Homo sapiens: one gene and its partners. The protein of the gene in region 1 purifies or fractionates together with the protein of each later gene. This does not show direct contact. Each region holds a gene or a part of one and is shown in the gene's direction. Other genes may lie near its edges.

Evidence for each region.
Region 2: the proteins of CFAP36 (region 1) and OSBPL11 purify together in Homo sapiens (affinity purification with mass spectrometry; one large-scale study listed by BioGRID and IntAct). This does not show direct contact.
Region 3: the proteins of CFAP36 (region 1) and BDH2 purify together in Homo sapiens (affinity purification with mass spectrometry; one large-scale study listed by BioGRID and IntAct). This does not show direct contact.
Region 4: the proteins of CFAP36 (region 1) and OSBPL9 purify together in Homo sapiens (affinity purification with mass spectrometry; 2 studies listed by BioGRID and IntAct, with this or other methods). This does not show direct contact.

Annotation. Positions count from the first base shown.
Region 1 is NC_000002.12:55,526,211-55,529,723, forward strand, and holds part of CFAP36 (cilia- and flagella-associated protein 36), read left to right. Parts: intron 1-2,667; coding exon 2,668-2,782; intron 2,783-3,227; exon of another isoform or gene 3,228-3,513. UniProt on the Homo sapiens protein: May act as an effector for ARL3.
Region 2 is NC_000003.12:125,532,986-125,536,498, reverse strand, and holds part of OSBPL11 (oxysterol-binding protein-related protein 11), read left to right. Parts: intron 1-3,513. UniProt on the Homo sapiens protein: Plays a role in regulating ADIPOQ and FABP4 levels in differentiating adipocytes and is also involved in regulation of adipocyte triglyceride storage. Weakly binds 25-hydroxycholesterol. Interacts with OSBPL9 to function as lipid transfer proteins.
Region 3 is NC_000004.12:103,082,823-103,086,335, reverse strand, and holds part of BDH2 (dehydrogenase/reductase SDR family member 6), read left to right. Parts: exon of another isoform or gene 1-595; coding exon of another isoform or gene 596-637; exon of another isoform or gene 638-873; coding exon 874-987; intron 988-3,406; coding exon 3,407-3,465; intron 3,466-3,513. UniProt on the Homo sapiens protein: NAD(H)-dependent dehydrogenase/reductase with a preference for cyclic substrates. Catalyzes stereoselective conversion of 4-oxo-L-proline to cis-4-hydroxy-L-proline, likely a detoxification mechanism for ketoprolines.
Region 4 is NC_000001.11:51,760,091-51,763,603, forward strand, and holds part of OSBPL9 (oxysterol-binding protein-related protein 9), read left to right. Parts: intron 1-599; coding exon 600-690; intron 691-1,776; coding exon 1,777-1,881; intron 1,882-3,513. UniProt on the Homo sapiens protein: Interacts with OSBPL11 to function as lipid transfer proteins.

The DNA of each region.
Region 1 (3,513 bases):
GTAAGTCCTTTGAGCTGTGTTTAGTATATTTGCATTCCCTGCTGGTAGAACAGAGATGAAAACTTAGTTGCTAGTACATAGTTCTCAATAAATGTTTATTAATTTAAATTGTCTTGTTATGATGGCCTAGAAGAGGTTGCCTTGACTACTTTTTAATCCAGCACTTCCTCTTTTGCACAACTTTTCATTTGATGATCACCTTTAATTCTAGGAATAGAAAACCTTTTTTGTTTGTTTGTTTTTGTTTTTGAGACAGAGTCTTTCTCTGCCACCCTGGCTGGACTGCAGTCGCTCAGTCATAGTTCTATGCAACCTCTAACTCCTGGGTTCAAGTGAATCTCCTGCCTCAGCCTCCTGAGTAGCTAGGACTATAGGTGTGCACCATTATGCCTGGCTAATTTTTCAGTTGTTTTGTAGAGAGGGGGTCATGCTGTGTTGTCCAGGCTGGTCTTGAGGTCCTGGCATCAAGCAATCCTCCTGCCTCACCCTCCCAAAGCTCTGGGGTTACAGGTGTGAGCCACTACATTTTGGCTGGGTGTGATAGCTCATACCTGTAATCCCAATGCTTTGGGAGGCTGAGGCAGGAGGATTACTTTAGGCCAGGGTCTCAATACCAGCCTAGGCCACAATGCAAGACCCCATCTCTACAAAAAATAAAAATACAAGAATTAGCTGGGCATGGTGACACGCTGCTGTAGTCCTAGCTACTTGGGAAGCTGAAGTGGGAGGATTGCTTGAGCCCAAGAATTTGAGGCTGCAGTGAGCTATGACTGTACCACTGTATTCCAGCCTGGGCTGCAGAGTGAGACCCTGTCTCTAAAATAATAATAATAATAAAATAATTTAAATGTTATTGGTATGCCCACATTAATGTGAAAAAATCTGGCAATTTCCAAGAAGACATAACAATCTTTAATATGTATGTACCTAATAACAAAGCAACAAAATGTGTGAGGCAGAAACGGAACTGCAAGGAGAAATGGATGAATACATGATTATAGTTGGAGACTTCAACACCCTCTGTCAGTATTGGACAGATCCAGTAGTTAGAAAATCAGTAAAGACATAGTTGAACTAAACAGCACCTTCAGGCCAGGCACGGTGGCTCATGCCTGTAATCCCAGAACTTTGGGAGGCCGAGGTGGGTGGATCACTTGAGGTCAGGAGTTCGAGACCAGCCTGGCCAACGTGGTGAAACCCGTCTCTACTAAAAATACAAAAATTAGCCGGGTGTGGTAGTGGGCACCTGTAATCCCAGCTACTCAGGAGGCTGAGGCAAGAGAATCGCTTGAACCTGGGAGGTGGAGGTTGCGGTGAGCTGAGATCGCGCCACTGCACTCCAGCCTGGGTGACAGAACAAGACTGCATTTCAAAATAAATAAATAAATAAATAAATAAACAAACAACAGCACCTTCAGTCAACTGAATTTATTTGACATACACCACTTCATCCAATAATCAAAAATACACATTCTTCTCAAGATCACACAGAATGTTCGTCAAGACAGACTACATTATGGGCCATAAAACATACCTTAACAAATTTAAAAGAAGAGAGATCATACAGTGTCTGCTCTCAGACCACAACATAATTAAACTGGAAATAAATAACAAAAGATAATTGGAAAAAAACAAAATACTTGGAGATTAAACAACACACTCTAAAAAACACATGTGGGCCAGGCATGGTGGCTCATGCCTATAATTCCAGCACTTTGGGAGGCCAAGGTGGGCAGATTGCTTGAGCTCAGGAGTTTGAGACAAGCCTGGGCAACATGGTGAAACTCCAACTCTATAAAATACAAAAAAATTAGCAGGGTGATGTGGTACACACCTTCCGCCATGTTGGCCAGGCTGGTCTCAAACTGCTGACCTCAGGTAATCTGCCCACCTCAGCCTCCCAAAGTGCTGGGATTACAGGCATAAGCCACTGCGCCTGGCCACAATTTTTGTTTTATAGAATTATAAGGAATTATATAATTATATATAAAATATGTAATCATAGAATAATCATAAAGTATTATATTTTATAGAATTATAAACAAATGCCCCTCTTTATTGCTGATCATCTTTCTTGTTCTGAGGTCTACTTTATCTGAAACTAAATTAAGCTACTCCAGCTTTCTTTTTTTTTAAACAACTTTATTGAGATATAATTTGCATATCACAATACTGATCCTTTTGAAAAATTTTTTTTTTTTTGAGACGGAGTCTTGCTCTGTCACCCAGGCTGGAGTGCAGAGGTGCGATCTTGGCTCACTGCAACCTCTGTCTCCTGGTTCAAATGATTCTCCGGTCTCAGCCTCCTGAGTAGCTGGGACTACAGGTATGCACCACCGCACCTGGCTAATTTTTTTATTTTTTTAGTAGAGATGGGGTTTCACCATGTTGGCTAGGCTAATCTTGAACTCCTGACCTCAAGTGTTCTGCCTGCCTCAGCCGCCCAAAGTATTGGGTTTACAGGTGTGAGCCACCGTGCCCGGCTGAGAACCCTGTTTTAAAGGCTATTAAGATAAATTTTAAAATTGTCCTTTTGGGACATCTAATCATAAATAACAATGTAGCATTCTTGAATTAATCTACTGTTTTGCAGTAGAAATGGTTCGAATGTATGGGTAATAGTTTTAAAACTTGAATCTTCATTTCACTTGAGACTTCTTTCCACAGGCCATTTTGCAACCTGTGTTGGCAGCAGAAGATTTTACTATCTTTAAAGCAATGATGGTCCAGAAAAACATTGAAATGCAGCTGCAAGCCATTCGAATAATTCAAGAGAGAAATGGTAAAATGTTGAAGTTAGAAATCTAAGTACTAAATGCATTTTTTTTTACAGTTTTGACTATTCTAATATGGTCTTAAATGTAGCTGTCTCATGTACATTTATTTCAAGTTTGAAAGACTTCAGCTGACTTGAGATTTTAGAGTATATGGCTGGGTGCAGTGGCTCACGCCTGTAATCACAGCACTTTGGGAGGCTGAGGCGGGCAGACCATGAGGTCAGGAGATCGAGACCATCCCAGCTAACACAGTGAAACCCCGTCTCTACTAAAAATACAAAAAAATTAGCTGGGCGTGGTGGCGGGCACCTGTAGTCCCAGCTACTTGGGAGGCTGAGGCAGGAGAATGGCGTGAACCCGGGAGGTGGAGCTTGCAGTGAGCTGAGATCGCGCCACTGCACTCCAGCCTGGGTGACAGAGTGAGACCCTGTCTCAAAAAAAAAAAAAGAGTATAAACTTCCTGATTTGTATTTGACATCTCAAAGAAAGGAGACCAGAATTCAATGATACTTTGGATTTCACAGAGTTCAATTTTCTGCCCAGCCATTATGTTTATGAAGTTGAGTATTTTTGAATGGTCATAGTTGTGGTTACTGTTGAGAGGTGTCCATCCTTTTTCTGGCTTAAGATTGTTAGGACCTTTGTAGGAAGCAGTGGTTCTTTTTTTTTTTTTTTTTGAGACGGAGTCTCGCTCTGTTGCTCAGGCTGGAGTGCAGTGGCATGATCTCGGCTTACT
Region 2 (3,513 bases), on another chromosome or scaffold:
TGAACTTGGTGCTTATATTATTGAACGTGATTTTTTAAAATATTGTATAGTATGTCAACATCTGGAAGATCTGCATAACTCAATGAACCAGTATTTTTCAAATGACTAATGCATGATATTACAGAATCATGCATGGATAAATGATCCATTCAGGATGCACATTAGACCAGTGGATTTCCATATAAGTTATTTGAAAAAATATTGACATTCTTAAATTTTCCACATTGCAACTGGCCTTTTTAAAATTACCAGTTGTCGAGTTTTGAAACAGTATGAAAGAATTGAATTATTTGAAAAATCTGTAAAAATATTTCTTCTCTTTTTCAAACTGTATCTGTGTGAGGCCAGAATTTTTTTTTTTTTTTTGAGATGGACTCACTCTGTCACCTAAGTTGGAGTGCAGTGGCATGATCTCGGCTCACTGCAACCTCTGCCTCCTGGGCTCAAGCGATTCTCATGCCTCAGCCTCCCAAGTAGCTGGGATTACAGGTGCACACCACCACACCCAACTGATTTTTTTGTATTTTTAATAGAGATGGGGTTTCACCATGTTGGTCAGGCTGGTCTTGAACTCCTGATCTCAGGTGATCCGCCCACCTCGGCCTCCCAAAGTGCTGGAATTACAGGCTTGAGCCACCATGCCCGGCCCAGATTTTTCCTATATATACTTTAAATCAATATATCACCACAGATTGAATGTATGGGCAGATAAAGAGATGCTTCTGGGCCGGTGTGGTGGCTCACGCCTATAATCCCAGCATGTTGGAAGGCCAAGGCGGGTGTGTCACTTGAGGTCAGGAGTTCAAGACCAGCCTGGCCAACATGGTGAAACCCCATCTCTACTAAAAATACAAAAATCAGCCAGGCATCTCTACTAAAAATACAAAAATCACCTGGCGTGGTGGCGTGCACCTGTAGTCTCAGCTACTCGGGAGGCTGAGGCATGAGAATCACTTGAACCCAGGAGGTGGAGGTTGCAGTGAGCCGCCGTTGAACCACTGCACTCTAGCCTGGGTGACAGAGCCAGACTGTCTCAAAAAAAAAAAAAAAAAAAAAAAAGATGCTTCTGAATTTTATTTGCTAAAATTTTGTAATGAATTTTATAGTTTCTATATACATGAGGGATATTGCTCTGTTCTTTTCTTTAGGGGAAGGTTTTGAATTACAAATTACGTATGTTTAATATATAGGGCTGTTAAGGTTTTCTGTTTCTTCAGTGAGCTTTGGTAGTTTGTCTTTCAAGGAATTGGTTCATTTCAGCTAATGTGTCAAATTTATTGTCATATAGTTCCTAATATTACCTTATTTTTTTATCTGTGTAGGATCTATAGTGATATCCCCATACTTATTCCTTATATTTGTAATATCTTTTTTCTCATCAGTGTGACTAAAAGTTTATTAATTTTACACAAAAAACCAGATTTTGGCTTCACTGATTTAATCTATGTTTGTTTTCTTTCTCATTGAATTTTGCTCTTTTATAAAATCTCTTTTTTTCTCCTTACATTGTAAATAATTTGCTTTTTTTTTTTTTTTTTTTTTTTTTTCTAATTTCTTACAATGGAAGCTTAGGTTAGGGGTCAGCAAACTTTTTCTGTAAAAGGCCAATTAATATTTTAGCCTTAGTGGACCAAATAGCCTCTCCCACAGCTACTCAACTCTGCCCTTATAGCATGAAACATCCATAGACAATAAGTCAATGATGAGACATTGTTAAATTGCAATAAAAAATTATTTACAAAAATGGGCTGTGGGCCATAGTTTGATCCCTGGTTTAGCTCATCAATATTTTTTTCCTAAATGTTTAATGCTGTAAATTTTCCTCTGAGGACTGCTTTATTTCTATCTGATGACTTTTTATGTGTTTTCATTTCGAAATATTTTCTTATTTCCTTTGTGGGTTTTTTTTTTTTAACTCATGAACTTATTTACAAATGTGTTGATGATTTCTAAATGTTTAGAGATTTTCCAGCTAGCTTTCCATTATTTATTTCTAATTTAGTTTCATTTTGGTGAAAGAATATACTTTGTATGATTTTAATTCTTTATTTAGGTTTGTTTAATGATTCTGAATATGTTCTGTCTTGGTAAATGTTTCTTTTTTTTTTTTTAAGACAAAGTAGTGTCTTACTCTGTCGCCCAGGCTGGAGTGCAGTGATGCAGTCTCGGCTCACTGCAACCTCCACCTCCCTGGTTCAAGCGATTCTCATGCCTCAGCCTCCCGAGTAGCTGGGACTACAGGCGTGTGCCACCACACCCAGCTAATTTTTTTATATTTTTAGTAGAGATGGGGTTTCACCATGTTGGCCAGGCTGGTCTCAAACTCCTGACCTCAAGTGATCCACTCACGTCGGCCTCCCAAAGTGCTAGAATTATTCATGAGCCACCACACCTGGCCTTGGTAAATGTTTCATGTGCCCTTGACACGAATGTGTATTAAGCCCAAGAGTTTGAGACCAGCCTGGGTAACATGGCAAAACTCTGTCTCCACAAAAAATATAAAAATTAGTTGGATGTGATGGCATGTGCCTGTAATGCCAGCTACTCAGGAGGCTGAGGTGAGTGTGTTCTATAAACGTCAGGTCAAATGAGTTGACAGTATTTTTCTAGTCTTCTGTAGTCTTACAGATTTTCTGTGTATTTATTCTATCAGTTGAGTTTAGTTATTGAGATTGGTTATTAAAATTACCAATTACAATTGAATATTTCACTTTGTAGTTCTGCAAGTTGTTACTTCATTTTATTAGAAGTTCTGTTATTAGGGCAGGCATTTATATTTAGGATTGTTATGTCTTGATGTTTCTGTTTTTGTTTTAATGTCTTTGGTTATTTATGGAGAATTCCTTATAAATTCATTTTTATTTTTGAGCCATCTCATGTATCATATTTTTTTAAAAGGATATTTGATACTTGATTTTCAGAAATGTGTTAGGAAACCTTTTGGAGCCATTAAGATACATATGTAGCCTTAATTCTTTAAATTATAAGACCTTTGGCATACTATCCAGCACTTTGGGAGGCCGAGGTGGGCGGGTCATTTGAGGTCAGGAGTTCGAGACCAGCCTGGCCAACATGATGAAACCCTGTCTGTACTCAAAATACAAAAATTAGCCGGGCATGGTGGTGCACGCCTGTAGTCCCAGCTACTCAAGAAAGTGAGGCAGGAGAATTGCTTGAGTCCGGGAGGCAGAGGTTGCAGTGAGCTGAGATGGTGACAGTGAGACCCTGTCTCAAAAAAAGAAAAAAGAGAAGAGACGAGAACAGAAGAGAAAGAGGGAGGGAGGGAGAGAGAAGGGAGGGAGGGAAGGGGAGGAAGAGAAGGAAGGGGGGAGGAAAGAAAGGAAGAAAGAAAGAAAAAACAGATGTTTAGTAACTTTCTCGAGTAGTACAGTCATTACCATAAATAAGTTTTAGAATATTTTCATCCTACCGTAAGATCTCTCTTGTTCATTTACAGTTAATCCCCATTACCCCCAGCCCAGAGAACCACTAACTTTCTGTCTCTATAAATTT
Region 3 (3,513 bases), on another chromosome or scaffold:
TCCTTAACCACAGATCTTTTGCTCTCGATGTGAGCCAGTGGTAAAATTAAATTAAAATGTGGGGTATTTTTGCCCTCCCTTTTATTCTTTCTAATGGACATGGAAATGAACATCAAACTGGGAGAAAGAACCATTTAACATTTAATTAATTTAAAATAGTGTATTGAGCACCGGTATGTGCTCTGGCCATAAAAGAATTCACAGTCCAAAACTAGGAGCAAGGCAGCAAACATCATCTTCTCCAGTGTGATGATATATAACAGAGGTTTGTACAAAGCGCTGTCAAAATACAGGGAAATAACTGCCTGTGAGTTTGTGGAATGCTTCACAAAGACAGTTGATCTGAGCCATCAGCAAGAAGTCAAGTTGAAGGACAAGGACAGCAGTACAAAATGTGGATTATGTCACAATCTGGCATAGTTGGATCTGTGAGTTTAAAATGAAATAGTTACTGCTGAGATACCATTTCTTCTCTTTGCAAGGATACACATATTCAACATACACAAGAGAGGAATGTAAAGAAGTGCCTAGGCCTCCTGTTTTATTGTTTTGTTTTGTTATTAATCTTCATTTTCTTTTGGAATCTGCCTAAGAGTTATGGCAACTGATGATGAGAAACTAAGACTACCAATGTTAAGTAAGTTCAGCATTTCAATTAAGTCTCAATTAAGTTGTGCCTATACTGATATTATTTCCCTAGATCCAGAAACTGACTCTATTGAAGGAAAAAAATCTGATATCAATCTTTTTAAAAGGGGAGGAATGTGGGAGAAAGCATGAAAATGGCTACTGGGAAAACTTATTTGTGTTACCTTTCTGAAGGAAAATACATTTTTTATTCCTTCAATTGTTGAACCTTTCCTCCACCCTCAGGAGTTGTGAACAGATGTGTGTACAGCACAACCAAGGCAGCCGTGATTGGCCTCACAAAATCTGTGGCTGCAGATTTCATCCAGCAGGGCATCAGGTGCAACTGTGTGTGCCCAGGTGAGTAAGGCACACCTGTTTTGTAAGCAAAGTTTTACTGAAACACTTCCACACCCAATTTGCTTATGTTATTGCCTATGGCTGTTTTCATGCTACAAAGGCAGAGTTTAGTATAATAGTTGCAACAGATAAAATGACTCTCAAAGCCATAAATATTTTTTGTCTGCCTCTTTACCAAGAAAGGTGTGCCGATCCCTCATACAAAGCAAAGAAGAAAAGCAGAACTTTCCTTTTCTTAATAACTATAGGGGTGTGTCTCATTTTCACAATAACCGTAGATGTGTTTATTAAATTGATATGTACTTTTACCTGGTTCTACCAATCTAAAAGGAACTTAAGGTATCTAATAAGGATTATAATATTCTTTAAAAAGAAATGATTGCATATCCAGGATCAAGGTTTCCCTTGGTAGTGCACAATTGATAATGGGGGGTGGTGTGTGAAAGGGAAACATTTCAATATGACCTGGGGACCTTTCAAACCTGAAGGGCATGCCAGAATTTAGGGAAGGAGTTCATGGAGAGAATTGTGTGGTTTAGAAAGACCCACAAGAGATTCTGATTGAATCTTCAGTTGAAACCCACTGACTTAAAGAGGGGAAACTAAACATCCCCCAAGCTACAGAATTTCAGCGATTGAGATGTTCTGTTTTATTTTTCTTGGAACAGAAATGTAAACGTAGGTAACGCTAAGAAAAAGAAGAATGCATGAGAGGTCATTTCATTGGGTTTTAATGTACATCCTGGCGATACTTGAGTCTAGCTATTCTTGGTGCCATTTACCCAGTGGAATAAGTGGTAAAATGATTTGGAAAATGTGGTTGTTTCAGCGACTGGACTTATCAGGAGATTGGAAAATATGTTATCAAACTCTTTGGAACAAGGAACTAGCTGTGACTCAGTGAACCAATCACAGAAGAAAACTTGAGGAGGACTGAGTATGTCTGAGATGCTGCTGATGGTTGTATAGTCACAAATCTCCAGCCAGACTTGTGTAGACCCTGGCATAGTATGTCTGTGCCATGGACACAGCTGAACCCAGTGACATTGGAATACTCTAAAGGCATGGGCTTGCTCTACAGTTCTTATTTAATAGCCATTAGTACCAGTCATATGTAAGATATGATGTTCATTTACCTCAGAGGGAGAAAGCTATTAAAGCTGTAAGATTCTGAAGGAGTGTTAGTGAAAGCTTGAGGTGCACACTGTTGGTAAAACTGTGGACTTTAAGGAGGCTATTGAGGAAAGTGAGGAAAATATTATTGAAAATTAGAAAAAAGAGTGTCTTTGTCATACAGTTTCAGAAAGTACATCAACACTGTTGCCTGTAGTGTGAAGGTAGAAGATGTTCCTAATGAACTGGGTGATCTAATTAAGGTGATTTCTACCCAGAGTCTTGAAAGTGCTGGCTGCTTATAGTAAAATGTGACAAGAGACAGATAACCAACCTAAAGAGGGGGTTCCAAAATGGAGTCAGGCTTTCTGATTTTGAAGATTTCCAGCTTCATCAGAAAAAAATAGCAAATGATGCTAAAATTAAGAAATGTTTTCTGAATAAAGATCAAATCTATGGCACTCTCAGGAACATGATCTAAGGGTGAAGTATGACTGTAAAACCATTTGTTACAACCTCAGAAAGATCACATTATTTGCCAGAGTACTCTTTAGTCTGAAAAAGGGCCCTCTAAAGAGAATGAACAGTTTATGTCCGTTAACAAAAAAGTCTGGGTAACGTGCTCTAGGAGACCATAAACTAAGTGGAATTTTAAAATGTTAGCGTTGTTCTTATTTTTCTTTTTTAAAGTAAAATAACTTTAAATTAGATTAAATTATATTTTTGATTAAAAACTTGAAACTGTGGTTAAAAGTAGGCATTTGAAACAATGAAAATAGGCAAGGTGATAAGAAAAATTTAGCGCCACCTGAATTACCAAGGACTATGGTAGCCATGGGATTGTCCCCAAAGATGCCACAGTGAACTTGACAGCAAAGAATGGTTTTGAGATCATTGAGGCAAACTGGCTCCTTAAGCTGGCAAAGTGCTTGTACGATTTTATCTACATCTCAGGGTTATTGTGAGGATTAGCTGAGATCATATGCATAAATGTATTTAAAATCCATAAAGCATCATATAAATGCAATGTGACTAAAATATATGTCCTTGAGAATGCTGGGTGATTCATCCAGAGTCCCTACATAGTGTCACGAAGAATCATAGTCTGTGTTTTTAAAATCATAGAAATGTTATTGAAGAAATTATAAGCCTATTAAATAAGAGGCCTCAGGCAGGCAGCTGTAAAGTTGTCATTTTAAGTCAAGGAGAAGAATCTCACTGATTGTCATATGGAAAGGAAGTTTAGTTATCGATTTCTTTTTCAGTGAAAGTGAGTAACCAAGCTGAATATCCCCCTTTGATTTAGGAACAGTTGATACGCCATCTCTACAAGAAAGAATACAAGCCAGAGGAAATCCTGAAGAGGTACATCTAGCATTTAAAATGTATTTAAACCTTTTGTTAATAAATGCC
Region 4 (3,513 bases), on another chromosome or scaffold:
ATTTAGAGATGATTTAACTTATATGGGAGCGTATGTGTAGGTTGTATGCAAATACTACACGATATTTTATCAGGGACTTGAGTGTCTGTGGATTTTGGCATCCTCGGGGGGTGCTTGGAACCAGTCCCCCTGGATACCTGAGGAGTGACTGTACTGTGTGATAGCAGCAGTATGGGATGGAAAGATGAGATCCTAGTGGTGCAGGTACATCAGTTGGACATTTGGTGTAACTCACCAAAAGTGAAAAAAACAGAGAAACAATATTTGTGGTGAATTAAGAGATTGAGAAGCACCGAATTGAATTGAGAGGTGGTTTTGACTTCCTGAAATCTCCCCACACCATTTTATAACTCCTCAGTTTTTCCATTTAGCTTTACCTTCTTCTGTGACAGAGATTCATTCATTGTCTTTCCTTACTATGCTTTAAGCAACTCTTACACTTCTGTATAGAAAAGGTGTTTCATTCCCTCTTTTCATTTTGATCAACATATCTATATAGCTACCCTCAGGATTTTGAAGTCATAAATGTGGGCATTTGGGAGGGTAGCATGAGAAGAGCATTTAATTAAAAATAGCTATATTGTGTTTCTTTATTTTAGAGTACTATTAATCCCGTAGATGCAATATATCAACCTAGTCCTTTGGAACCTGTGATCAGCACAATGCCTTCCCAGACTGTGTTACCTCCAGGTAATTTGGGAAAATGTTTCTTAGATTCATTGATGAGAAAAAAATAATTTGTGTGGCTGTCATAGCAGTCTTAGCTATTACTGTTTATTTTTGATTTTCCTTGTTTTTAATAAAAGCACTCAAAAAATAATACAGCCAAAAGTGAACTGAAAAAAGATGATAATGTTTTGATATTGGGGCTTTACTGAAGTGTGATGAAAGTGGTTTTGTTATTCAAAGTGAGATAGAAAACAAACTTGGTTACTACGATTTGGATTCACTGGTAGAACAGGATTCTATGACTCAGAATTCATGGCTAGCGAGGAAAAATTACTATACCTTATTCTGGATAATCCAGGGATGTTCCGTTTTGGGGTATTCTGTGTAGCTCTGAACAATACAAATGGTATGTTCATGGTAGATTTTAAGATAATGAGAAAGTGAAGAGGGAAATTTATGATGCCTACTGATCACATGACATCTGGGTTTTGTTTTGTTTTTTTTTTTTTTGTATAAAGCAATACATGCAATTTTTTAAAAACTGGCAAAGAAGGGCTCAGGGCCAATACCTAGCTACACTGACTGATTCCTTTTGCCCTTTTGTTATATCCAACATTTCTATGTTCTCGATGGCATAGTGAAGTCAGAAATTGTACTGTAAAATGGAAAACTCTTTTTAAAAGTACTAGTAAGTATGTGAAATCCTTTTGTGAGTTTTTACTTCTTAAGTGAATTAGCTTAAACTACCTCTTGGGGCTAAAGAGGAACAGGTACTGTACTCCACTTCAGATTTTTTGTGGTTTGAGGCTCAGAAACACATTATCATCAGAAGCATTTGTTGGTTTTACAGCATAGTTATACTGCAGTATTGGCCTACTGTGGCTGGTTTTTTGATATCCTGCCTGGTATCTTAGTACTCTGTAGCCTATCATCATTGAGTTTAAGAGGCTAGGAAGTCAAAAGGAAGGAGTAGCATGGAACTAGACTTAATGAAATAAAGTTTCAAAAATTACTGGCCTTTAGGATTTTGAATCCCAGACAATTACAGTCAATAGAATGTGTGTTTGGCTGTTTCTGTACCTTATTTTATACGTTCAAATCTCCTAGAACCTGTTCAGTTGTGTAAGTCAGAGCAGCGTCCATCTTCCCTACCAGTTGGACCTGTGTTGGCTACCTTGGGACATCATCAGACTCCTACACCAAATAGTACAGGTACAGATTTGCATAATTTCTTTATGTCTCATAACTCTATTAACATTTGAGGTTTGTTTGTGACCTCTGATGAGGAGGGGGAAAGTTGAAGAAATGTGTTGTATATTTTCTGTTGGAGATATGTTAGTTTTAACATTATAGTTCCATACATGAAGTGGTTAGCTTTGTGTTTGAAAGAGAAGCTTTAGTTAAGTTTTATTTATTTTTAAGTTTTTAAAATTTTTATTTTTGAGACAGGGTCTCACTCTGTCATTCAGGCTGGAGTGCAGTGGTACGATCAGGGCTCACTGTAGTTTTGACCTCCCAGGCCTCAGGCTCCCAAGTAGCTGGGACCACAGGCACACACACCACACTTGGCTGATTTTTAATTTTTGTAGAGAGGAGTCTCCCTATGTTGCTCAGGCTGGTCTCAAACTCTTGGGCTCAAGCAGTCTTCCTGCCTCAGCCTCCCAGTGTGCTGGGATTATACAAGCATGAGGCACCATGCCTGGAATAATTTAAATAAAATAAAATATTACAGAGTTTTGTTTGTTTGTTACCTTAACATTTATTTGGTGATCTATGTTGACTTTTTGAAAAATTTACTCCAGCTAGACTTGCATACTTTCTTATTATGAAGCTGACACAGAAGTGCACAGAATAAAAACTGCAAGTCCTCTTTACTCTCCCCCCAGTAATTTGCATACATGTATGTGCATATACACTTATGTCGTGTATTTTTATTGTTTTTGTTTAAACCTAACTTAGGTTATGTGTTTCTGTGACTTGCGTTTTTCCTTTAACAAAGAACACTTAGAGCACTTTCCATGTTTGTAAAATTAGGTCTACAGCATTCTTTTTACAGCTGCCTGGGCAGGTATTGCTTGTTTTTTCCACTGATGGAAGCAATACTTCAGTGATATCCTTGTACAGCACCTTTGGCATATGTATATTTTTTTAGAAAACATTTATCAGTCTTTCACCTTTTTGCCAGTTTTATAGTTAGAAAAAAGATACTTCATTTTAATTTGCATTTTCTTTTTGTTTGTTTAAACGTTTTGTTTTTTGTTTTTGAGATGGAGTCTCACTCTGTTGCCCAGGCTGGAGTCCAGTGGCACTGTCTCGACTCACTGCACCCTCCACTTCCTGGGTTGAGGTGATTCTCCTGCCTCAGCCTCCTGAGTAGCTGGGATTAAAGATGTGCGCCACCACGCCCCACAAATTTTTGTATTTTTAGTAGAGACGGCATTTCACTATGTTGGCCAGGCTGGTCTCGAGCTTCTGACCTCAGGTGATCTGTCCACCTCCACCTCCCAAAGTGCTGGGATTACAGGTGTGAGCCACCGCGCCCAGCCTGCATTTTCTTAATTCGTTTAGGCTTAGGGTCTTTATTTTTTCTCTGTTTTACAGGGATACTATCAGTGTTAGATACTAGATTTATCTTGTTTTAAAATTAATTAAATGTATGTTGAATAACTTGTAGAACCAAACTCAAGGAAGCATCTAGCACTTTTCACACTGTTAAACCTGGAAACCAAAACCAAAACCACTCTTGAAGAAGTGGGAGATCAGCCCCTTTTGTTCATCCTCAGATTTTTTTCCCGGGTAGGATTTTTCCTGTGTAATGATGAATAATTACCCTGTGATTTAAAA